Regions from separate parts of the Homo sapiens genome. Here all the other regions are linked to region 4. The links come from fine-mapping of genetic effects on gene expression. A gene starts in region 4. Each other region holds a variant in brackets. All regions are shown on one strand. Distances are between the middles of the regions.

What was found. PIP is the estimated chance that this variant, and not a neighbour inherited with it, causes the effect. A credible set is the group of variants that fine-mapping cannot tell apart.
Region 1: its variant is the best candidate, but not a certain one, in a credible set for the expression of SDK2 in whole blood (TOPMed, PIP 0.59).
Region 2: its variant is the best candidate, but not a certain one, in a credible set for the expression of SDK2 in whole blood (INTERVAL, PIP 0.67).
Region 3: its variant is the best candidate, but not a certain one, in a credible set for the expression of SDK2 in cerebellar hemisphere (GTEx, PIP 0.77).
Region 5: its variant is the best candidate, but not a certain one, in a credible set for the expression of SDK2 in whole blood (INTERVAL, PIP 0.88).

What each region holds. Positions count from the first base shown.
Region 1 is chr17:73,570,951-73,576,049 of GRCh38, forward strand. The region is part of intron 1 of SDK2 (sidekick cell adhesion molecule 2); the gene reads right to left. Among named protein-coding and RNA genes, the nearest start is that of SDK2-AS1, 60 kb to the left of the region's middle. The variant C/T (reference allele first, on the strand shown) is at 2,591.
Region 2 is chr17:73,549,257-73,554,355 of GRCh38, forward strand. The region is part of intron 1 of SDK2 (sidekick cell adhesion molecule 2); the gene reads right to left. Among named protein-coding and RNA genes, the nearest start is that of SDK2-AS1, 38 kb to the left of the region's middle. RefSeq lists an enhancer at 1-66. The variant C/T (reference allele first, on the strand shown) is at 3,052.
Region 3 is chr17:73,346,336-73,351,434 of GRCh38, forward strand. SDK2 (sidekick cell adhesion molecule 2) reads right to left here. Exons shown (of 45, transcript NM_001144952.2): 42 at 4,315-4,455; 43 at 3,902-4,040; 44 at 2,264-2,390. Among named protein-coding and RNA genes, the nearest start is that of CDC42EP4, 37 kb to the left of the region's middle. RefSeq lists an enhancer at 987-1,836. The variant C/T (reference allele first, on the strand shown) is at 2,194.
Region 4 is chr17:73,642,458-73,647,556 of GRCh38, forward strand. It overlaps SDK2 (sidekick cell adhesion molecule 2), which reads right to left and starts at 1,988. Exons shown (of 45, transcript NM_001144952.2): 1 at 1,568-1,988. The coding sequence starts at 1,631. It overlaps LOC124904054 (a long non-coding RNA gene), which reads left to right and starts at 3,017. Exons shown (of 2, transcript XR_007065893.1): 1 at 3,017-3,237; 2 at 3,364-3,647.
Region 5 is chr17:73,720,179-73,725,277 of GRCh38, forward strand. No RefSeq gene overlaps it. Among named protein-coding and RNA genes, the nearest start is that of LINC02092, 64 kb to the right of the region's middle. The variant G/T (reference allele first, on the strand shown) is at 2,915.

The sequences.
Region 1 (5,099 bases), 72 kb before region 4:
GAGCCCTGGTCTGGTCCTGAGTGGCTGCTGGGACCTTCCCAATGCCTGGGTGAAACTCCAGAGAACGAACTCTGGGCCAGCAGGAGTTTGCTGGGAAGTGGCTGCAGGAGGTGGCTCGGGTTTTTTTTTTTTGAGATGGAGTCTTGATCTGTCACTGAGGCTGGAAGGAGTGCAGTGGTGCGATCTCGGCTCACTGTAATCTCCGCCTCCCAGGTTCAAGCGATTCTCCAGCCTCAGCTTCCCGAGTAACTGGGATTACAGGCGTGAGCCACCATGCCCAGCTCGGGTCTCTTTCTGTCAAGGCAATGAAGAGGCTAAGGAGGGTGACAGAGGAGCCCCCTGAGCCCCAGGCATGGTGGGCTGTGGACCCAACCACCGGCTTCCTGCCTCACTGAGGCACCAGGGCGAAGACACTGATATTCAGTACTAGCAACCCCACAGCCAGTAGATAGTCAAGTTCCCTGCCCTTTCCAATGCCCACAGGACACTCTGGGTCACTCAGGGAGCTCGGTGGCCCACCCAGGCCCAACCCTGAGCCCATCGATCTGGGTCCTGGGGGGAACATGTGGGAGTCCAGCCCGGTGGCCCCCCGGGCGCTCTAAGCAGCCTGTGCCTAATGACCGCAGAAAGCCATTACAGCTCACTTAGCTGTAAACAGCTCTCCACAGCACTCATTAGGGCCGAGGAGCTCCGAGAGCTCTCCTCCTCGGGTGTGGGGCATGTGCCCAGCGGGGGCTACGCCTTCTTACTGGAAACACCGTTTCCCGCCCGGCCTGCCTTCCAGGAAAGGTGAGCCCGGCTGGGGCCCGGCCAGCGCCCTGCCCTCCCCTGCCCTCTCTGACCGGGGTCTGACCCTCCACAGGGGCTCTCTCCTCCCTGGGCATTTCCCAGCCTGCAGGGGCCCAGGGACAGGACAGGCAGAGCCCCAGGTGCCCCCTTGACAACACATGCCGGGCTTTCCATGGCCAACCTCACGGCCCACGGGGAAGGAGGAGCGCCCGCGGGGCCAGCTCCCCTGGGTGGGCCAGCACCCTGGGCATGCCGGGCCAGGCGGGTGCCCACAGAGACTCCCCTCCTCCCTATGATGGGGATGTGCCTGGGAAAGATGGACAGTTCTGGGGCCTAAACTGCAGGCGGACAAGACCTCGGCATTCAGTGCAGGTGTTGTCTTCTACCAAATCAGAGCTGTCCAAATGGTTTTAGATTCGGTCCCCACAAAATCCTGTTGAGGGTCCCAAGAGATATAACAGAGGTAAGGGTGGTTGTCCTCATCTAAGTGGGGGTGAGGGTGGGGTCCACAGCCTGTCTGTTTTGCTGTTTCCCTCCCTCCCCACTTTGTCCTATCCCCTACCTGCCGTGAGGGCTCAGTTATCCCTGTAGAATTCTGGGGTCTGCAGACACAGTTTAGTAACCACTGGCCTGCACCACGCACTGTTTTCTGTGCCTGGAGCGCTCCGACCCCTCTTCCTAGCCAGCTCCCATCCACCCCCACATCCTGATGGCACCCTGTCCCCAGCCCTGCCCTCCCTTCCTCTCATGCCAGCCTCCCTCTTATCACCCAGCTCTTCACCTTCTTAGCATACCCCTACATTTTCCAGTGATATTTCTATTTGTGTAGTTATTTGCTTATCGCCTTCCTATTCCCTGAGCTCTGTAGGGAGGAAGACCATGTCTGTTTTTGTCTCATCTCCAGCATGAGCCCAGTGCTAGGCACACAGCAGGCAGTCCATAAAGATTGACTGACTGACTGAATGAATGAATGGTCTAAGCATATGATGCTCAGCTTGCTGGAGAAGGGGCATCAACATCTTCCTATCATTGACCCCTTCTGTGTCCTCAGCCCTCATGACTGATGTGTCTTCCATCTACTCCTCCACCCCAATCTGGTCAGTATCTACTTGTCCTTTATCTTTCATCTGAGATACTTCCTCCCGGGGAGCCTCCCAGCGCCGTCAAACACCCAGCATGCTCACTTGTAATGGCGCCTTCTTATCTCTTTCTTCCTGGACCAGGAAGCAGAGCACAGGTGTCTAGTGTCAACACATGCCAAGGTGTCCAGTGCAGGTGTGCCACATGAAGGAACGGGTGACTGCCCCATGGCCCTGCTACTATGGGGCAACACCACCTCCTTGGAGGCTGATGACCTGCTCATATAGGATGGGGCCTCTCCATCCTCCACTTCCTCACAATCAGCACCCCCAGACACCTTCCCAATGTCTGAGCAAAACTCTGCAGAGAACACACTCTGGGCCAGCAGGCGGTCGTTGGGCAATGGAAGTGGGTGCACGAGGTGGCTCGGGTCTCTCTTTGGGTTGAGACAATGATGAGTCTAAGGAGGGTGAGTGAGGAGCCTCAGAGCTCCAGCGTGGTGGGCTGGGGACCCAACCATCAGCTTCCTGCCTCACTGCTGCACCAGGGAAAGGACACTGGTACCTGGCACTAGCAGGCCCACAGCCAGTAGATAGGTCACTCTGCACCCCCTTCCCAACCCAGTTCCCCAGAGGCTTCTCCATCTCAGGAATGGTCACCTCTACCCTTCACCCAGCTGCTAGGACCCCAAACCTTGGAGTCGTCATTCAGTCCATCAGCT[C/T]GGCACATCCTGCTGGCTCTACCCGCCAAACGCACCTTGAATCTAACTGCTGCTCACCACCCATGTTGCCATCACCCTGGGCAGCACCACCACCAGCTCTGGCCTGGACCACAGCCTCCTCCCAGGCATGCCTGCTCCCCTCCGCTCCCTGAGCCTTAGCCCCACATGGCAGCCAGAGGGATTGATTTAATGCATAAATTGGATCATGCCACTACCTGGCTCAAAGCCTCCAGTGACTGCCACTCACACCCAGTCAAATCCAGAGTCCAGACTGCAACCTGCAAAGGCCTGTGTGGATGGGCCCCTGGCTCTCCTGTGCTCCAGCCTCCTCTCCACACATGCCCAACCCTGCCCTTTATCCGGGCCTTGCTCTCAGGGGCCCTGGGCTCCGCCGTCTCTGCCCCCTTCCAAATGTCACCTCCCCGACCATGAGGACCACTCCAGTGCCACTCCCCAGACCTGCTGGCTTCTTCCTGGCCTTCGTGGGCCCTGTCCCTTCCTGACACTACCGCTCACATCTATGCGCTTCCTCACTGTCTGCCTGACCTCAGGAATGGAAGCTCTGCCCACATCTATGCATTTCCTCACTGTTTGCCCGACCCTCAGGAATGGAAGCTCCATGAAGGCAAGGACTTTTGTCTGTGTTGTTTGGCTCCTGTCCCTTCAGCCCCTAGAACATTGCCTAATACACCAATAAATATTTATCACATGAATATTTATGTAATATCTATTAATTTAGGGGTAGGTGACACAAGTATTTGTTACATGAATGGATACTTTTAAATCCATTGTTGATTAATTGATCAGTTCCCCTTGGTTAAATTTGTTTATAAAAGAACATCAGATCCAACCCTGATCACAGCTGACATCACGTGCATGCACATGTGTACGTGCACACACAAGCACACATGCACACATACACGCCTCGCTGATCAGCCTTATTAGTTTTTTCTCTCCCTTTTTCCCAGTAGCTGCAACTTCAGGAGACTACCTTGTGTGTGAGTGCAGGAGATGGGGGTGGATCTTTCCCTCAAGGCCAGCCCTCCCCACCAGGCTCAGCTATCAGCCAGGAGACAAGGTCCTCTGTGGGCACACCATCACCTCTACCTCCCCTTCGGAACCAAGGCAAGCTCTAAATGCCTTGCCCTTGCTTCCTTCCTAAACATTTAATGCCATACTGGCCTTCTCCACCTCTCTAGACACTTTCTACCACCCTGGCTTATGCTAGAAGATCAGATGCTCCTGGTAATAATGACCCAAGTACAACTTAACCAAGAGGGTGAGTCTTGAGTCTTGAGAAGTATGAGTCTCTGGTGGAAACCCAGTGGAACACCCTAGAGGGTGCTGGGTTTGGAGGCTATACCAACAGACCAAGAGTTCAAGTCTTGCACCTTAGTAGAGGCCAGCCCTAGGACTTAGGGAAGCCATCTGTCCTCTCTGCTCAAGGTTTCAGTGACTGGTTGGCTAAAGGACTGCTCGTATAGTCTCAGACAATTAACCTTCCTTGAGCCCCTGTTAGTGGGAGGCTGGGCTCTGCCTGGGTTTGGGAATCTGGAAGATGGGCATATCCCCTGGGAATCAAACAGTCCTGGCTCTGCTGCTTCCCCTTGGGGTGATCCTGGGCAGGCTGCTGAAGCTCCCTGGGCTCCAGGCTCCTCAATGGGGCGAATGACACCTGCATCGGGAAGATCAAAGCCACTGCTGAGTTCTAATTTGACCTGGGCCATCCTGTGACAACTCTTGTAATCAAAGAAACCCTGGGTTCTCCCTCATGGACTCCAAATCTGCCCCAATCACTCCAGGGCTCTCAGAAGGAGCCACTCTGAACCAGCACTTCATTCTTTCACTCGTTCATTCACCAGGTATTTCCAGAACGCCTGCCAGTTCCAGGCATCATGTGAGGCTGTGAAAAGTGGCATAGCAATGTGGACGAGAGCTTGGATTCTGAGGTAGACTCATTTGGGGCTGAAGCACTATCTCTTGCTAGCCATGACCTGGGGGCAAAACACGTAATCTCTCCGTGCCAGTCTGTACTATATCTGCAGAATAGAGCAGTCATCACAGTTATCTCACCAGGTGGTGATCAGGATTAAACGAGTTAATATGTGTAAAGCATGTAGGATTGCGTCTGGCACTTGGCAAGTAAGATATGATTGTTGTCTTTGTAATTATGGAATTAAAGTTGAATAGACAATCTTTGTGCTCAAGGAGCTCAGCTTAGCGTGGGAGACAGAGCATACACAGACAACGGCAACGCAGCAGCGCTAGGGCTAGGAGAGGAAGACGAACAAAAGCTGGGGCTGTGGATTCTCACGAAGGGGCAGGGCCTGCTCTTGAGGGGCTCACAGTCTCAAGGGGGAGAGGAGGTATAAAAAGGGAGAGCAAAGTCAACCAAAATTCCACACCGTCTGCAGCCCAATACATGCAGCACTGAGCTGGGGGCCGTGGGGGATGACTTCAGCAAAAGACACGCCTGTGGTGGGATGAGGAAGTTTGCACCAAGGACAGA
Region 2 (5,099 bases), 93 kb before region 4:
CCTCCTGGCAGCCCTCCTTGATTGTTGAGCAGCTGCCAGCCACCTGGGCTGCTCACTGTTGAAGAAAGCTTCCCATCACTTCCTCATGACTCAAAGCTCTGCAGGTACTCTTTGCCCTTTAGCTTGTACCTGATTAATTAATTTTCAGTTAAGTGATTTGATCCGTCATCCATTCACCCAAAAACCATTCCTGGAGCACCTGGCATGTGCTGGGAATCGCAAACAAAGATTCAGCCCTTGCCCTCAAGTTGCTCATAGACCAACTGAAGAGGAAGTCTTGGTAAGGTGTCATGCTATGGGGGAAGTAGATGGGGCTGGATGGGTCAGGGAAGGCTTCCCGGAAGAGGGAGTGTCTAAGTCAAGCCCTGAAGGATGGATGGGAGTCAGCCAAGCAGAGATGGGGGCAAGTTTTAGGCGAGGTGAACACACAAACAGCAACCCGGTCAGACAGAATGCGGCAGGTCCCATCAGCCACAGTGTGTGGGAGAGGGGATGGGGGGCAGAGACAAGGAGAGGGGTGAGAGCGGGGCTCAAGATGTGAGCGAGGTGGCATGATGAGAGGCACTGAAGGGTTTCAGCAGCAACAGATCAGATTTCTGTAACAGAAAGATCACTCTGGCTGCAACGTAGTGGGGAACGCCAAGTGGGACCTGGTCATAACCAGGTGGAGGGGTGGTGGTGACCAGAATCTGGAATGAGACTGTGGGTGAGGACCGCCGGGGGTGCATAGAGGCAGATGCATGCAAGACACTAATGCACCCCTCCCGCTGCTCTGCACTGTGTCCCGGGGGCACTGAGCCCCGGGTTTCTCCCTCTGGTTGCACCAGCCAGGCCCCCTCCCTACCTGCCCCTTTCCTGCATGGCAGGTCTAGTGCTCCTGACTGTTTCCAGGTCAGGTTGAGCTGGCCTGGCTTGGAAATATGCTTGATGGAGTTCTAAGCCTGCTGCAGCAGGGGGCCAGGGGTCAGGGAGGTGGCAGACTGCCAAGGTAGGAGCCTCTGGTTCTCCCCGGCCTCCTAGCGACTCTGCTCTAGGGTTAACGGTTCTGAAATATATGCTGCTTAATGCTACGTCCCCAGGAAGGGACCCCTAACCTGCTAGCCCTTTGTCCCGCTGGGAAAATAGCTCAATTACTGCCAAAATGAGAAGCTGTCCTGGGGTGGATGAAGTAGCACCAAAGGATAATTAGAATGGGCTGGACATGAGCAGCCACTTGTTTGGAAAGGTGGAGGGCCACGACACAGAGACCCTGGGTGGCGGGGGAGTCAGGGTGGCGGTGGAAGGGCAGGAGGGACCCAAGGAAGCCACAGAGCTTTTGACCGTCTCCCATTCCCCCACCCCTACCCTGCAGCTTCCTGCCACACGTCTCTTCCTGGGATGTTAAGGAGGCTGGCATGGAGTCAGAGTCCACTCAAGAAAGCAGAAACTACTGGCTATACTCGCACAGAAGGAATTTGCTACAGGGAACTGGTTGCAGGTGATAATCAGCGAGAAGCCCAGCGGGGGACAGTGAGGTAACCCAGAGATCGGTGACACAAGAGGCCTCTACCATCCCTAGGCCGGAGGGGTCCAGGGAGGAAGTGAGGTTGCTGGATCCCAGGGCGAGTCACCCGTCCACAGGGAGCTGGAGTCATGAGCCAAACGCAGCTGCTCATGGAAGCCAGTGGAGGCAGGAGGGAAGGGAGAGACCCCAGCTTCTCTCCCTTGCCTACCTCCTGTCTCCTGTCAGTGCTTCCCACTGGCCAAGCCTAACCTGAAGCCAGCTGACCGGGGAGCCTGGGAAGCCAGGAAGACAGCCACCTGTGATACAGGACAGAGCAGAGGCAGGACAAGGAAAGGACCTGAGAGGTCACAGCCCACGAAGGACACAGTGGGTCGAGGTGGTAGCCTGAAGCCACAAAGCACGCTAGCCGGGGACTCCACGCGCACCTTGTCTTCCCTCCCACACTGTTGGGTGATGGCGGCCGGCTCCCCATCAGCTTCTGGTGCCTTCGTGATAAATGCCCACACGCTCCCACCCCAGCCCGATTCATCAAGCTCCCCGTGGCACGTTGCATGGCCAGAGACCTTGCCCACCAGGAGCTTAATCTCCCAGACAAAGAACAGAAACGCGGCCTGGGCCAGAGACATATAACATGTTGCCGGGAGTCACTGACGGTCTAAGTGAGCCCAGGAGCCTCGCAGCTCCTGCCAGGAATGGGGAGGGGGCGGAGCGGCCGAGGCCTTCGGTTTTCTCCCTCCTTCCATCTCTGGTGTCAGGGGTGACTTGGAAAGGATACCCCAAGTTTCTCTAGGCCATTCTTCCACCTTTTTCTCAACCTAACCCCTCCTGGACCAAGCAGGCTCTAATACAGCTGTTCCTTTCTCCTTCCCTCCCCTCCTTCCTTAACATGGATTAAAAGCCTCCAACACACTGTTTGCTATGGACGCTGTGGATGCCATAGCGAGCAAGACAGGCCTGGTCCCTGCCCTCACGGTGCTTACACACGCAGAGCTTCTGCAACCTTCCCTAGTTGTCCCCCTAAGGGCAGGGGGACCTTCAGACCACCCCACCCCGCTGCTTTCCAAACTCAGCTTCCAAGAGGAAGCTGAGACCCAGTCCATCTGGAGACCCAACTCCAGGCTTCCCTTCTGTCTCCAACCCCTTTTGAGTAAAAAGAGGGTCAGAGAGGAGAGGGCACTAGATTCAGGGGGCTGTGATTGGCTGCCACCAGACTGATAGATGGGTGAAGAGACCAACCAAGACTGTGGGACAGCCAGGGTGGCAAGGCAACCTAGAGTCAGGCAGGTGCCGCTGCAGTCCCCACCGCCTGCCCCCCACCCCTCGGCCAGCCTGTCCCCCCTGTCTGGGGCCCAGCTCTAAATCTCTCTGACATAAAATATTGTCGGAGAGCCACAGCACAGAGAGATTAAAAAACAATAAAGAGAAAGCGAAACTCTCGTCTATAATTACCAGCCTCTAGCCGGCAGCAGCAGAAACGCACTAAAATTTTAATAGGAACCACTGCATTTAATTTAACGACACATTTTTTCAATTACCAGAATAATTGT[C/T]TTATTCATAAAATGAGTTTCAATAAAGAGGGTAATTTTCCTTTGTTTTTATTATTCATTTGTGAAACATATTTGAGATAGAACCCCCTCATGTTAAGGCAGCTTGGCGAGGACGCATGACATCTGTGTCACGCATTGAAACTGGAGTGGCGCAGGGGACCCTCCTGAGGGGGTGGCCGTCCACATTGCCAGCTGATGGCCGAGCGGTCAGTGGTCGAGGCGCAGGTCTGAGTGTACTCGGCCGGAGTACCCATCATGAGCCACTTAGATTAGCTTCTCGGCACTCAAGAAGTACGTACGAGCATCACGCCCACTTGAGCTATGAGAAACTGAGGCATAAATGGGTTAAGTCACTTGGCAGGATACGGGGGAACAGGATTTGAGCCCGGCCAGGCTGACTGCAGAGCTTGAGGACGGTGCTACTACCCTGCCAATGGACCCCGCTGTAGGCTGCTTCCCAGACGAAGTTCCCTAAGCGACTTCATCTTTGAACCAACTCATTTGCACTTCTCGCTCTGGCTTCGTTTACACTGCACTCTAAGCCCTCTCCTTGGCAAGTTCTCAACTCGAGAGCCCTTGCCCTGAGCCTCTGGCTGGCGCTCAGAGATGGGATGAACTGTTTGGAGAGGAGCCGTAGAGGAGAGGCTCAGACCCGTTTGGGTTCTGGGTTCCTCGAGCACCCTAATCCCAACCCTTTGGGATTGGCTGCAGCTCCCAGGTAGGGCAGACGGCTGCAGCGTCACGCTGCTTCTCTGGATGGATGAATGCAAAGGCAGAGGCTTCTGTGGGGGCTGGGAGGGAAGGGCCAGAGGGAGCTCTTGGCCCCACTCTGGGCATGGAGGTGGCCTTGAGCATGGAAGCACCTTCTGGGGTGTGTGTGTGTTCTGAATACCATCAGAGGCAAGAGGCAGAGATGGGGCAGGACAGGCCACGGGGGGCCAGTGGTGGGAGCCCAAGGCTGCCTCCAGTAGGGAAATTGATATTGATAGACCATTCTCACTGTCAAGGGCTTTGAGCCAGGACTTACTGCCTATTTAATACCAGGGTCTCCATAGTGACCCTGGAAGGTGGATGTTATTATCCCCTTGGTAAAGATGACAAAACTGAGGCCTCAAGAGATCAAACAAGTCCTGCCCAAAGTCACTGGGCCAGTGAGCAGCCCAGTGGTGAGTCACCCCCAAGCCCTGCCGGCTGCACCTATTCCTATGATGGTGTTTCCTGCAGGGAGCTGCCCTCTCAGAAGCCAGGATAGCACAAGGAAGGACAGGGGGGGACAGAGAGGTTTGAGGCCCAGGGTCACCCCTGAGCCACTACCTGGCCACAGCCTCCATCCCACCTGCAATCTCCTTCCTCGGGCCTACACCTCCTGCAGGTGAATAGCACCACCCCCAAACCCCCACCCTTGTTACAGCATAGCCTTCACCCAGGGATGCCAGTCACCCCCTTCCTGAGGAGGTGCTGGCAGAGGGGGCATGACCAGCTCCAGCCTGAGCCTCAGATTCCCTTCAGGCTTTTTGGGCATAAGATTGGATGCAGGAGTGGTGGTTTCCCTACTCCCTCCCTAGGTATAAATCTGGCCTGCAGAAGACCTCTTCAAGGGGAGATACCTAGCAGCCCCAACACATCCCCCTGAAGCCCTGGCTTCTTCCCATTGAGGAGAGGACAGGAGCATGGAGGGAGGGTTACTAGGGGAGCTGGGGCCCTGAGGCTCACAGGGAGAGGGGTTTTATGTCCTCCAGGGGGAGCTGGGACCACCTATTCCTAACCCTGGAGCAGATCCCTTGTCCTCATCAACCCATGGTCTCTGCCCCCTTTCAGGTCTTCTACTTCTTCCAGGAGGCCCCCTGATGAGGACAGGGGGCAAGTCATCCTCCCCTTTGGAAGCCCAGTGCTTTGCGCAATGCCAGGCACACAGGGGCAGCTCATCAATCCATTATGTAAAGGCACCTAGATGAAGCAGAACCACTTCCACACTGTTATGAGCCAAACTTCCTGCCCCCAAAATTCATCTGTTGAAGTCCTAAGCCACGGTACCTCAGAATGCAACT
Region 3 (5,099 bases), 300 kb before region 4:
GATTAGATGGTGTGTGCCATTGGCTCGGAATTTCTTTTCCATTGAGATTTACTTGTGTGCTAAGTATATACATTTTTTTTTTTTGTACAAAACTTGGGCTCTTCTTTTGAAAATGAAGTTGCCGTCCAGCCAGGCTGCAGTGTTAAAGTTCCATCAAACAGGCCTTTAAATCTCCAGTCTTTGTGTGCATCCTGCCCTCTGCCTGGTGCCCCCTTCTCCTGCACCCTGGGCCCTCTACGGGAGAGCCAGCCCCTCTCTCCTCTAGCCCATCACCCCCAGCTGAATTATAGCCTTTCTCACATCACATCATATGTGTTTGTTTATAAGTCAAACTGACGCTTTGTTTATTGCCATATCACAGGAAAACGACTGGGCAGATTTCTGCCAATTTTGGAGAGTGGGTTTTGGGTGGTCTGTCTCAGAATATAAACCAGGTGGCGTATGCAAAACCCACTCTCCAAAGACCTGGGGGAAGGGGTGTCCTTGAAAAGAGAGGCAGTCATTTTTCCTGGCGGCTGAAACCGAGGGGCCCTGGCCTGTGCAGCTGCTGATCCTCAGGGACGTACCCTTGCACAAACTGTCACAGGCAGGAGAACTACCAGTGGCATCCCCATCAGCCCCCACTTGAAGGTCGCAATGGTGGGGGCTCCGCATTGCAGATGCTGATTGGTAGCCGAGCTGCTTCTCACGTGGCTGAGTGGCAGCAGCACTGACTTATTTAGGAGCCTCATAAGGACCACAGTGGGGCCAGCACAGTGGTTCACACCTGTAATCCCAGCACTTTGGGAGGCTGAGGCGGGGGAACACTTGAGGTCAGGCATTTGAGACCAGCCTGGCCAACATAGTGAAACCCCATCTCTACTAAAATACAAAAATTAGTGAGGGGTGGTGGCACATGCCTGTAATCCCAGCTACTCTGGAGGCTGAGGCACGAGAATCACTTGAACCCAGGAGGCAGAGGTCTCAGTAAGTGGAGATTGCGCCACTGCACTCCAGAGCAAGACCCTGGCTTAACAACAAAAAAACTCATAACTTGGATCACGTGGGTTTTGTCCCCCACAATAAGTTCCTGGGTAAGCCATGCTAAGTTGGGGGTCTCTGTCCCTGCCAGCTTTGAGCTAGGGAGTTAGGTCCAGCCTTCTCAGCTCTGCCAAGCCCATCAGTAACCCTGGAGCTGAACAAAACAGCAGTGAGTGGGAGGCCCTCAGCCCACGGGGCCCACAGCGTGATCCCAGGCTTCCTGGCACCTCCTGCACAGCCAGCAGCCCAGCTCCCTGCTGGCACCTCTTCCTTCACTTCCTCTCCCAGGCCTGGGCAGAAAGGTCCAGGGCGTGGGATGCAGTGGCCTTTCGTGGCCCTTTCCTCAATAACCACTGGGCTTGGCTGAGGCAGAGGGTGAGGGTGGGAAGCTGTAAGGCTGCATGGTTGGAATACACACAGCCCCTTCCCCACACAGCCTGGGACAGTGTCCCCACGTGACCCACCTAATGGCCGCTCTCTGAAGCTCTGTGTCTTCCAGAGGCACCGACCCCCTCTTCATATAAAAGCTGACATTTACGGAATGGTTGCCGTGTGCCTGGCTCTACACTGAGTTCACCAGTGTCTAACTCAGCAGATCCTCCCCACAGCCTCGGACAGAGCCTAGTATCACCCCTGCCTGTTCCACAGATGGGGAAACTGAGGCTTAGAAAGGTTACTTGGCACACCCAGGACATCCCAGGTCACGAGCAGCAAAGCTAGGATTCACACTCAGGTCCAAACCTCCAAAGCTTAATGTCTCCCTGGTCTACACTGCTTCTCATCCTCAGGGCTCCAGGGCACCCAGCCCTTTGTTTCTGAAGCTGTTTTGATGCGTGAGTAGTGAAGCTGAGCATTTTTCCAGGTCTCTGGCCTGGAATGCAGGGCTGTGTGTCAACCTTCTCCCCAGAGTCTCCCTCTCCGCACCTTCAGCGTGCTCTCTTGCAGGACAGCCCTAATGAGTAACTAAGCCTGTGGGGTGACCCCTGAACGTAGAGAGGGCCGTCTTCTTCGGGGTACCCCCTATGATCAAGGTTCCCGGGACCCCATTGGCACTGGCCGCAAACTTTGAGCAGAACTTGGGAGGGGACAGATGGCCCATATATGACTTCAGGGTGGTTTCTTGGGCCCCTTAATATTTGCTGCCCCTTGAAGGAAAGGAAGAAAGCCCATCTA[C/T]GTTCACTGCCCCACTCTGGGAGGCGCTGCTCCCTGCCCCCTGCAGGACACCTGGCCCTCCTGCCCTCACCTGAGAGTCGGAGATTTCTGAGGGCTTCTCCGTCAGGCTGCTGCTCTCTGCAGGGATGAGGTCGTTGTATTTGGTGACATCCTCATCCGAGTAGTGCAGGCTGCCTGGGCTGGGCCTGGGGGGAGACCTGGAGAGAGCGGGGGAGTGGGGCCGAGAGGTGCACTCACTCAGAGCGGCCTCCCCTGGCCTAGGGAGACCACAGTGGGGGCCTGGGGAACACGGATCCCTGCCACCCTGTGCTCCTCCTCCTTCCTGGGTCTGCCTTCCAGGGGCCCGGGCCTGGGAGGTAGGAATCTGGAGGAGGACAAAGAGGGAAAAATGGGGTGCCCGGCTAATGCTGTCATGGCAACATGCAGGGTGAATGTAGGGGGGATGTCACCGTGGCTGGGTTCAGGACCCCACATCCTGGGGCTGCTTTGGTGCAAACGGGATTTTTGTGTACACACAGTGGCTTTGGGGGCACACAGGGGCCTGGATGTGTGTGCACTGTGGGTAGGAGAGGCTGGGAAGGGCAGGGGAAGGTGAGGCCACGTGTGAAATGCCCCCTTGTTACATGTAGTAGGGCCCCGGAGCCAGCCTGGCGGGGCTGCTATGGCCATGCTGGGCCTGGCTGGGCCTGCTGTGGGGGCCTCAAACAGCTCTTTCTTTGGAAGGCTGGATTTGGCAGAGGATAAGAGCTCGGCTTTGGGAGCTCCTCCCTCCATCCTCTAGATGAACACACACATAGCTTCGTCCCTCTAAGACAGAGACAGAGGGAAGCTTTGTGAGCTCCTGAGAGAGGCTGGACTCCTCCTGACTGCCGCCTCCAATGAGCTGGGAATGCCAATAGGGCTGAGGCTGGAGACAGGAGCCCTCTGGCCCAGTCTTTCTTGAGCTCAGGGGAACAGAAAACCGCCACACATCAGGGGAGGGTCAGGTGGGCCCCAGCAGCTGCTCCTGCCCTTGGAAATGGGCAGCCCGATGGCCACAGGGAGTAGGGCCTAGGAGGGGGCTGGGGTTAGAAAGAAGTCAGAAGAAAATAGGAGCTGTGCTTGCACCACGAGCCTTGTCCTGTCCTCATGGGCTGCTTTCAGATGCTGCCCTTTGAGGCTGATGGGGATAGGAGGTTGTCCTTTAATAGGTATAAATAAGGACCTGGGGGAGAGGGTTTCCCAAATGGGGAGGAAGACAGGAGGGCATAGCGATAATGCGGGTGCTCAGGCGTCCTTCGCTAAGGTGTTTTTGCTCGGTCTGCGTTGGCTGGGCCTGTCTTGCCTTTGGGGCCAGTGACGATCTGCAGGGCTGTTTCCCTGGCAGTTGGCTCCGAACATCAGTAGGTTGGTTTGAAAAATTTTGCCAGTTATTTGCATTCTACTGTCACTGTCAGGAACTCTTAGTAGCTACCTCCTTGTAAATTTCTCCCCAGTGCGCCCTCACCCCCAGGCTGTGATTGGGCATGGTGGGGACTGGGACCCTAGTTGTCCTGCTTGGGCCCCACTGTGTCTTTCTGCTGATCGTTCCCAGCCCTGGGGCTTGAATGGTGTTTCCCAGGACAAGGTATGGCCAGGTGGGCACTCCCTGCTCTATGGCCTTCCCCAGCATTCTCCCCACCTGGGCACTGCTGGGCCTGGCCCCCAACCCACGCAGAGGGCCCAGTACCTGGTGTACAGGCCGTTCTTTCGGCAGAAAGAGTTCTTGACGGAGAGCCGCCTGTTGTTGAGTTCCAGGGCAGGGAAGCTGCTTTCATCCAAGCTCATCATCTCGCTGTGGCCTAGGGCTCCAGACTTGGCACTGTTCCCTGAAGTCGGCGGGAGATTGACACCCTTTAGACTGTGTGGCCTCCCCTCTCCCATACCACTCTCCACCTGGCTGGGTTATCCCCTCTTTCTCTTGGTAGAGTTGAGACCAAAATAAGAGATTGAGATTGTGTGTAGAAACCCTAGGCTGCCCCACCCACCAGAGCAGGTGCGCTGCCAGGAGCCAGGAGAGGGACCTGATCACCCCTGTTCTGGCCAAAAAGGAGATACATAAAACTCAAGTCCAGCCAGCATGGCTGGTGCCAGCTCACTCACCCGAGTCTGTCTTCTTGGCGTACTTCTTGCTCTGGCCCCGGATGATGAGCACGAAGACCAGAAGCAGGATGAAGATGAGGCCGACCAGGGCAATGACCACCAAGAACCACCACTCCTCATAGAAGGGGTTGGCTTTCTGGGCTGGAGCACAGATAGTCAGGTATATAGGGTGCTCAGCCCCCTCCTCCCTCCAAATCTCCTGCTCCAGTTGGGACCCTACTAACTGCTACAATCTATGGGAAGGCAGGGTCTGTACCCTCCGAATGAGGCAGAACCTCTGTAAGGACAGTTTCACCTCAAGTATCCGCTCTGATCAGTCGGTAAAGGGCTGCCTGGAGGGCTGATGTCAGATGAGTTCTGAGATGGCTACCTGGCTCAATAGGAAAGAGTGCTAAGATTGATTAGTGATGTCTGCCAGGGACATAGGAGGGGAGAGTGGCAGTGTGTTAGCTACTTTTTCCCCTTTTTTTTTTTTTTGAGACGGAGTTTCACTCTTATTTCCCAGGCTGGAGTGCAATGGCATGATCTTGACTCACTGCAACCTCCACTTCCCGGGTTCAAGCAATTCTCCTGCCTCAGCCTTCCAAGTAACTGGGATTACAGGTACCTGCCACCACACCCGGCTAATCTTTGTATTTTTAGTAGACACGGGGTTTCACCATGTTGGCCAGGCTGGTCTCTAACTCCTGACCTCAGGTGATCCACCTGCCTCGGCCTCCCAAAGTGTTGGGATTACAGACGTGAGCCACCGTTCCCGGCCCCTTTTCTTTTTTTCTTTTGTACTT
Region 4 (5,099 bases):
AGGACAACCCATTCCTATTCTGCCAGCATCAGGGTCCTCCTGGGACCCCTCAGAGAGGGGGCCCAGACCAAGGAGACCCCATGCAGCTAGTCCTGGTTTGAGGGAGAGAGGCTCAGAACTCATCTGGTTCCAGACCTGCCTCTGCCCCCAGATCACAGAGTGGCCTTGGGCAAGTCATTTAATGCCATTTGGCCTCAGTTTCCCTATCTGTTAAATGGCTACTAGAATAAGATGACCTCTGAGGTCCTCGCTTGTTCAAAGATTTTATGATGATCATAAAAATAATAACTTTTATTACCCTACATTTATAGGGCTCGTTACAAAATTTCGAAGTGCTTTTATGTAAATTACCTCGTAAAATCCTCCCCTCAGCCCTGTGAGTGAGAGCTGATTATTTTCATCTCTTTGATCTTGGCTCTCTGGATTGCCTGGCGCACGAGGCGGCGTGGGGAGTGGGTTGCAGCCCCCACAGTCCGGACCCCTAGGGTGGGTCTGGCCCCCTCCTGAGCCTGCGAGAGTGAAGGCCTAGCCCTGCGAGTCCTGGAGCTCGGTCCAGGCTTCGTCTCCCTCCGCCCCCAGCAGGCGCCGCTCGGACACCGCTGACACCACTGTCTGGATCGGCGAACCCCAAAGTCGAGGAACCGCCGGTGCAGCCGCCCTTCACCTCGGGGACCTGCCCGGGGACCAGGGGGACGTCTGGGCATCCACCCTCAGGAAGCGGGCAGCGCAGATCACACCTCGGATCCTTCGTAGCACTCCCAAACCCAAAGCCACCAGCCCTTCTCCACCGCGAGGCTGCTCCCGGCAGCCACAGGTCACAGCAGCGAGCGGCTGCACAGACTATCGAGCGAACAGCGGAGGCTGGAGGCAGGGGCGGGGATGCTGGGTGTGGGTGGATGGGTAGGAGGGGAGGCCTCAGACCCTCCCTGTGCACCACCCCCCGGTGGGTCCGCGGCTGCACCCGCGACCTTGGCTCCAGGCCCGCGCAGCGAAGCACCCCCAGCCCCAGCGGCTGGCCGAGCAGCCAGGGGCGGGCTCCCGTACGTGGCCAAGCCGGGCAATTGCTCTCCCCGGGCGAGCAACCCGGCATCCAGCGCTCGCCCACCCCACTCCCTCGCCCCGGGGAGGCCATCGCCTGCCCGGCAGGGGCCCTGCCCTTCCCCGCAGACACCGAGCAGGGAACCAGGAGCTCGGTCTGGGAAGCTCAGCGTAGCCGAGCGTGGAGCCCGGCACGGAATGTCGCTCCCCTCCCAAGCCGGCGCAGGGCAGCCACAGCAGACGGGGGGAGGGGAGCGCCCCTCCCACTTCACCTTGGGCTCTTCTCTGCCTCCCCAGGTCGTCCCCACCTTCCCCCATTCGGAAGCCACAAGTCTCGGAGAGACTGCCCCACCCCCAAAAGAGCCCCAAAACTTGGGAGATGGGGTGTCTTGAAACTCCCTGGAGAGGGCTCTGCCACGGCTAAGCCGGGTGTCCAGGAGGTCACCGTGAGGCCGGCCAGCTCCCGCCGCCCCTCCCCCGCCCACTCTCCCAGCCCCCTCCCTGTCCCCACGTGGGGGTCCCTCCTTACCTTGGGCTCTGGCCGCGCGGATCTGATGCAGAGCTAGCAGTGTCCAGATCAAAAGCCCCCACATGGTGACCAGCCTGGAGAGGGGTCCTCGGGGTCTCCCTTCCCTCCGCCCTGTTTTATAATCCTGGTGGGGTCCGATACCCCGTGGCTTAGTCCCAGGAAACAGTCAGTCTACGCGGCTCCGTGCCCCGGGGTGTAATATGCCCGGGAGGGGCAGCGCTTGGCTACCCCAACCCTTCCTCCTCTTCTGTACTAGTCCGAGCCCGGCAGCGCGCCCGGAAGGCGAGGGGCGAGCAGGGAGAAAGAGGCCAGGCCGCCCTCTCGGACTAGGGCGCCTCTCTCCCTTAGCACCCCAACTCCGACTTCTCCCAAACAGGGCGGCCTCTGCGATCCGGCCGGGTCGCCGGCCGAGCTCCGGAATAAATGGACAACTTCAGGAAACTTCCTCCCGTGGCCACGTTGCCCGCCCCCTCCCCGCCCCCTGGTTGGGTTCTCCCGGCCGACGCAGTCACCGCCGTTCCAGGCGCCGGGCCCCCGGGACCCGGCCAGAGCCGAGCGCAGTGGCAGACGCGGGTGCGGGGGTTCTTTTAGGGGCGCCGGTTTCGGGGGACGCGGTGAGCATAGCGGTCCGAATCTCCCTGGAGCTGAAGTTTTCTTCTCTCTAACTTTGCAGGCAGCATCTGGCGGGGCCGAACCACCCCCTCTGGGCTCCACCGCCCTCGCGCCGAATCGGGAGACGCCGGGTCTCCTCCGGGGGCGCTGGGGCCGGGCGCGCCCTCGGCTCCGCGCCCAGCCGGCTAGCAAACTTTGCGGGTCCCGGAGCCGGGCGCGCAGCCCTGAGCGCCCATGTCCGCGCCAGCCGCGGGGCGGCGGGGGAGGGTGCTGGGCTTCGCGACGCGGGCTGTCGCCGGCGCCCGGGCGCAGAGCCTCCTGCCGGCCCGAGGATGGAGACCGGCGGCTCTGCCCTCCGCCGCGCCCCGGCCGGAGCTCTCGGGAAGACGCACGGAGAGCCCGGCGGGCAGCCCCGGCTCCGGGGACGCGGCGCCCCTTCGGACGCCCGGCGATCGCCGACCTCCCGGGCCGGAGGAGCAACGGCCGCCCCAGCGCCTCGGCCGCCGCTGCCGCTCGCCGAGCCCGCCGCCCTCCGCTTCCCGGGCTCGGCGTCCAGAGAGCCGCTCCTGCCTGCGCCGAGCCGGAGCTGCGGGGGCAGCGTGAGCCGGGGACGAGCGCGGCGGAGGCGGAGACGCGGAGAGGGGGGCCGAGCGCTACCCCGTGGCCGCGACTGGAGAGCAGCCTGCGCGCCGGGAGGGGCGGCGGCGGCGGCGGCGGCCCCGAGCCAGGCCCGGGAGCGAGCCCCGCAGAAATACAATCCGACTGCGCGGCCGCGGGCGCCCAGCGGCTCTGGGACCCGCAGGGGGGCAGCAGTGCCAACCTTCTGCCGCGCCGGGAGAGATGCGCGCGAGCCCCTCCGCTCTCTGCCCAGCCTTTCCTTCCAGCCTCGCTCGCGCCCCTGTCTCAAAGGCCTCATAGGACTCCCAGAGTCTCCTATAGTCGGGAGCCCCCAGCCCCCTTCCGGACATGGAGTGATTGGTGGGGAGGCGGCGGTTGGGAAAAGGGGGTCGGTCAACCGATTGATTCCAGTTTCCCCTTCCCAAGTCAGGCTCTCCAAGGTCTGGAAATGCTCAGGGCGGAGGGGGAGACATCGGGAGGCCTGGGACCTGCAGAAGCCTGAGAAAGTGAAGTTGGTGCCAAGGAGCGTGCGTTCTTTGTTTCTTCTTTTTTCCTTCGGAGCCCAGCTTGTAAAGAGTAGAAGAACCGGACATTGGTGGAGGAATTCAAACAAGAGAGCCCGGAGGCGTCCTCTGCTGTGGCCCAGAGCTAGCGCCTACTCCACGAAGCTCAGCTGGGGTTAACAGGCTTCTGTTAAAATTTCCCGGGCACTGGGAAAATTTCAGGTGCCTTCGCCTCGGTGGACTCCTTTCCCTGCTAACAAAATTATTAAAAATAAGATTTTGCAACTGCGTTGGCATAAGGAAAAGTATATTAATATTGCATATTAAAACATGTTCTTCAGCCTAAAGCTTTACTTATTTTTTTCTGATTTTAAAAGAAATCAAAACATTTTCATGGGCCCCAAAAGACTATGGTCCCTGGCACTGGGCCTGCGGTGCTTAATGCAGAAGTCTACCCTGCGTGTCTGATATTTCTTCTGGGAAATAAAGAGCTAGTGAGACCCTCCATCTTTTGCCACAGTGCTTCTCTCTACTCTCTCTCGTGGTCCTACTTAGTCTGGTCCCCCACGGCTGCCTAGTCTTTCTGGTCCTTGAAGTCTAGGACTGTCACTCACTGATTGCCAACTCTTTCCCAGGCGCACTCCCACCCCAAGGACACCCCTTGTGATTGCTGTGGAATAGGCATAGCCACCGCAAATATATCGTTACTTATATATTCTCCTTTCACCTGCTTTGGAAGAAGAACCGTAAGCATTTATTAAAAATGTCTGAGAAGCTGGCCTGCCTTGCCTACAGCGTTTCAATCACCTAATTCAAACAACATTTCCCCCTGGCAACCTGCTCCATCCCCAGCTGAAGCCCCTCTGGCTGGCTGATTTGTAAATGCGAGGGCTTTGGGGGCAGGCAGCCTAGATGTGACCAACTCTCCTTCTCCTTGGTGGCCATGTCACTCCCACCTGCTTAATGATGCCCAGATGTGACAGTGCACACCCCCTACATACTCTGAATGTCCCCAGCTGTGAGCTCAGGCCCTTCCCAGACTGTCAGGAAGAGCTCTGGTCTTTAGGGTGCTGTTACTCTGTTCGCTCACAGAGGGGGCCTGAGAGCCGTATTTGCGGGGAACCTCTCCTTCTGTCTCTTAGGCCAGATAGCAGAAAGGGCTGCATCTCCGTTTACATCACAGAGGGTAGGAGTTCGCGTGGACATAAAAGTCTGAAACCTGGGTGGATTCCACCCTGATCGTGCCCAATTCCCAGAAGTCCAGCAGGCAGGAATGTGAGCTCCACGTGCCTAGGGCCTCGAATAGCATCGTTCCCTTATTAAGAGGAGGCCTCTTGCACAACCGTTTGGAGCCCTACAAACCTTCTTCTGGGAGTTTCATCCCTAACACGTGAGACGGGGACCCATCAGGGACTGGTGTGAGGAAGGAGGTTTCCTTTTCTTTGTTGGAAGTCTCCAGGCATGCCTGCCAGTTAGAGAGGAAAGGACACCACTCCTGCAGCTCCTACAGCAGATTTCGGTCTCCATCCATCTAGGATGAAGAAGAAGATTTGAGCTCTTTTTGGCCTCAACCCATACACATACACACACAGGAAGGAACTCTCTGATTTTGCCTCTTGCCAGAGTTTTGCTGGCCCAGGAGAAGGCTGAGCTGGGAGTCTGCCACTTTGAGAGGGGCTCGTTACTGGGAAAGTCACTTGCAGACACCATGAGCTCATTCTTGCCACCAGCGGTATAATTAGAGGTTGCATCGGTACAGTTACAGTGGGCGCCACGTCAGGAGGGCTGCGAGGATTTCC
Region 5 (5,099 bases), 78 kb after region 4:
GTCCTGAGGCTTCCACCTTCTAGGATAGAACAGGGCACACAAGGAGGAAGAAGGCAGCGATGTGGCTGTCACCCGCCGTAGCCACCTGCTGGTATGGCTGACACCAGCCCTGGGCCCCGAGACAACAGCCACTGCAGGCCTTGAGGCCCAGCGCTGGTGCTGAATCTCCTGTCTCCTGTGCACAGGACAGGAAGGTAACCTTGGGCTCTGAGCTAGAATGTGCTGTGGCTTGCGCTAGACGGGGCCTGGTGGCTTCCATGGTCTCCTGTTGACTCCACCTGCCAGTGTCTGCATCTCTTTGCCTGAGGGCTTTTTCTAAAGCTGTAAAAGTTTGCTTTGTCAGAAGAGGGGAAATGAATACCCTCCCCCAGAGCAGCCTACTCAGCTGGTGGCTGAGGGGATTGGGTGTATAAATACCCCAGCTACCTTGCCCTCAGCAGGGAGGACTTGGAGGCATCTGTTCTACAGGTCACCAGAGGACCCCGGAGGACTAAGCTCCAGCTGCCAGCGTGGGTGCTGGCTTGATCCCCTGCTCCTCCTCCTCCTCCCCTGCTGCCTGTCCTCCCTGTGTCCCCTCCCGCCTCCCTGACTGTGGTCTTGTATCTCCTAAAGGTGTACTGGATCCTTCTCCCAGGACCTGCTTTTGGGTGAACCTGAACTAAGACCAGTGACAGCAAAGGTCTATGGGTTTAGGGATTGTTTTTAGGGCAGTTCAAACAGGTACCAAGAACCTGTGGGACAAATACATTAAAAGTGGAACTGCTCAATAGTTTTACTTGGAATCAGCTTTGAACGTGCCTCAAATTCGGAAAAAGTGCACAAAATCGGCCCTTTATAAGAAGCAACCCCACAGTTGCTGAAGGGAAGGGTTCCTCTGTCTCTTTCTTCTGCCTCCATACAGGAACATTTTAAGCCATTTAAACCTCCATATTCCAGAGTCAGAGATTTGGGCTGAACCTAGGTAGCTATTTTGACATCATATAGGACTACACTGAGACAAAATCTAAGGGAAAAGTGGAGCAGTCGGTCCGGAGGCTTAGCTTCAGCGTGGTTTGTGGACATGGTTCATTCATTGGCTGTTGTCACTGGCGAAGTGGAACTTCTGGGGTTCGGATTCTTTAACTTCATAATTCAGCCAGTGGGATTGTTTTCTGGGTAATCATGACATCAGCCAAGGTTCAGTCATAGAATCAGGAAGGTCAATTTTTTTTTTTTTTTTTGAGACAGAGTCTTGCTCTGTTGCCCAGGCTGGAGTGCAATGGCATGATCTTGGCTCACTGCAATCTTCGCCTCCTGGGTTCAAGTGATTCTCCTGCCTCGGCCTCCTGAGTAGCTGGGATTACAGGCATGCACCACCACACCTGGCTAATTTTTTGTATTTTTAGTAGAGATGGGGTTTCACCATGTTGGTCAGGCTGGTCTCAAACTCCTGATCTCGTGATCTGCCCACCTCAGCCTCCCAAAGTGCTAGGATTACAGGCATGAGCCACCGTGCCTGGCCTTTTTTTATTTTTTTTAATTATTTTTATATATTTTTTGAGACAGAGTCTCACTCTGTTGCCCAGGCTGGAGTGCAGTGACGTGATCTCGGCTCACTGCAACCTCCACTTCTCAGGTTCAAGTGACTCTCCTGCCTTAGCCTCCCGAGTAGCTGGGAATACAGGTGCCCGCCACCCCGCCCGGCTAATTTTTTGTATTTTTAGTAGAGACGGAGTTTCACCATGTTGGCCAGGCTGGTCTTGATCTCCTGACCTCGTGATCTACCCCACTTGGCCTCCCAAAGTGCTGGGATTACAGGCGTGAACCACTGTGCCCAGCCAGGAAGGTCAATCTTTTTGTGACAACATGGGAGTCACACCACAGTGACTTAATCGCCACCTGTACCTCACCCACTCCCCAAAAACTCACCCTGTACTCATGTTCCTGGATGAACTAGCTTTGCAAATATCAGCCGTGTGTTTCCATCATGAAAACCCATCCTCTGCATCCTTTATGGAGCTGACCTGAAATGGCCAACAGGGAGGACCGGCCCCTTCTGGACCAGCTGAATTTCAAATCAACATGATCTCTCACACACGATCTCTCATCAGCCGCTGGCTGGAAAGACACATGATAAAGGATTCGGCAGAGCTTCTGACACCGCAGGCTTTGCGACCTTGTGAGGCTTGGGAGAGAAGCCTGGTTCTCATTTGAACAGATGGGCCTGTTTGCAAATACTTCCTCTGATACCCTAGAACAGACAACATCCTGTCTGAGGTGGGTGGTTGTGACTGAAGAGACCAAACAGACCTCAAAGAAACACCTGCCACAGAAGTGGCAGCTCTGACTGTGGAGCCAAGAAAGCTTCTGCATTGCTGCCTCTCTGTCTAAGGGTGGAATTCTTTTTATTATTATTATTATACTTTAAGTTCTAGGGTATGTGTGCACAACGTGCACGTTTGTTACATAGGTATACATGGGCCATGTTGGTTTGCCGCACACATTCACTCATCATTTACATTAGGCATTCCTTAAGGGTGGAATTCTTTTAATAAGCAGGCCACGGTAAGGTTCTGAGAGTAAGAGGGAGAGGCAGCCTCCCTGCTGTCCTGCCTGAGAAGCTGGAGGCTGAGGTCTGATGGAGGAAGACAGGAAGAAGAGAGGGGCAGGATGTCCATGTATCTTTCTGGATGTATCACAGCTGTGCCTGGTACCAGGCAGGGGCAGACCATTTCTTCAAGGGCTGATGCTATTCTGAGAAGGTATCTTGCCCACCCAAGCTATCTCTTGGTCCCAGACTTGTCCAATTTTCTTCCCAATGACAGGCAGCCAACAATGTGCCCTCTTTGCAGTGAGACTGTACTGCAGTTGGAGGGAGAGCCCTGTAGGCAATGCAGAGTGTTCCCAGGGTCATTCCCAAACGTTCATTCAAGCA[G/T]GGCACTAGGCCAAGGCTCTGCAGCGAGAGACACCCTGAGACTTCTGATACCCTCTGGGACGAGACTGACAGATACCAGTCAAGGATTTCACTAATTCATCTCCCGTGGCCCAAGCAGATGTAATTCATGATATTCCTATGTTCAACTGGGACACAGCCTCAGAATCCTTCTTCATACTCCAATACAGCAGGCAGCCACGAATGCCGAGATCCAGAGCTGACACCCAAGATGCAACATGCTTTCCACATCTTCCCTGGGGACTTACAGTTTAAAACTGATTCCCTGACACCAATAACCATGCAGCAGATATGCAGATACCTCGATAAGAAAGGTCTTTGTGATTTATAATAGCAGATATAATCATTCACCCTGCCTAAAAGCTAAGGGTTTTTGCCATACTGTGAGGTTTTGAAGCAGAGTATCACGTGATTCGTGTTCCTGAATTTGACATGGGGAATCCTCATCTGAGTTGAGAAGGATATAGCAATCTTCAGTAGCCACTCCCAGGGGGCCTCTGTCCAGGATACAGGATCTGGACAGAGAACAAAGCAAATAGGACTGATGTCTCCATCCTCGGTAGCATCTCTCCAATCTGCTCCTATCCCTCTCACTCTCCTAAGCTCCCCTCAAGTAGGTGATCAGGTAAATTATCCTCTAAACTAGGAAAGGTACTATTAATGATTACATCACAATAACAGGTAAAATGGGAGGTGTCCCAGGCAAACAGGAATATAGGATCCCCATGCCCACAGGCCCTCTAGTTTTGTATGAGAAGGTGCATCTGTGTGTGCCAGATGTGTGTGTAGGGGTGGGTGTAATTTGGTGGGTGTGCTATGGGGCGCTGAGCAAAAGCAGATCCTTCTCCTGCCTAGGGTTCAGTCCCTTCCTCAGCCCTGTGTCCCCTCTGGCTTCGCCTGCCAAGGCTCTATCAGGTGTGAGAGTACAGAGCGATGGAGCTCCTGGCTGAGCTGATGAGGCTCCCAGGGACTAGAGCAATTAATTAAGCCTCTTCCCAGCTCTCAGCACAAGCCCCGTGCCACTGCCAGAGCCTTTTAATTGCCACTGGAATGGGTAGCTCTTAAAATCAACGTCCTTCCCTTAAAATCAACGTCCTGCTCAGCAGTGCTAGGAGAGGGAGGCTGGAGAGGGCGTGGAGCTGGCCTGTCCAGCAGTCCCCACTTCCCTTCTGGGGCAGGTCCCAGGAAATGCTTCCTTCCAATAGCTTCTTCCCTGCTGTGCCCACTTTGGGATTTTTTGCAGCTATGAGGGTGTTGACAAAATTCAGATAGTCACACATGGGAGAGACTTCTGAGATCTTAGAGCCCAGCCAAAGATCCCTGAGGGAAAGGGGCTTTCTGGACACTCAGGCTTGCTGGGAGGGGAAGGATGTTCCAGCTCTGGTCTTGGCCGATGTCACCATGGATGGACGAGACCTGGATCTAGCTGCTGCAGGCGCTGTGGGGCATGGGACAGAGGGCACACACAGCACTGGCTGTGGAGTCCTGTTGTGAGCATCCCTGTTGAAAGAACTAGGCAGGAGACTCTCAGGACCAAACAGATACAGTCCAAGGAACCTGGAAAATTGCATGAAGAGCCCTGGGCCAGGCCTTCAGGAGCCGGGGCCTAGGGGAATCAGGCTGCCCGGAGCAGCCTCTGTGAGAGCTGCTAGGGATGCAATGACCTTAAAGCTGCCTCTCGACTCTGAGATTCCGGACTGTGATTCTGCGACGGACTCAAACCCAGCATCCAACGCGGAACAATAGCTGTACTCCTGCCCTTCCCGACCCCATGGAGGGAGGCGGTGGCACAGTTCTATCTACACAGCCAATAATGCAAAAATCACCTCATTTGGAATGCATTAGGATTCCAATTTACAACAAATTTCCTTTCCTAAACTAGCTTGGCTTTGCAGACATGTGTCTCTGACAGCAGAAAAAGGGCAGGGTCCCTGCATGCCAGGCCAGAAAGAGGGACCTGGCAAGGAATCCTGAATTTTCAGGTGAAAAATCTGCTTTAGGCAAACTGGGAATGAATGCTGATGTAACTTGGAGTGTATGTGTGTGCGTGTGCATATGCACGTCTGTGATGAAGGGTCTGTGCATATTGCGGGAGGCAGAGACCCTGGAGGCCCTACCCAGTGACAGCAATTGCAGATGATGATGTCTGATAATCATATAATCATAT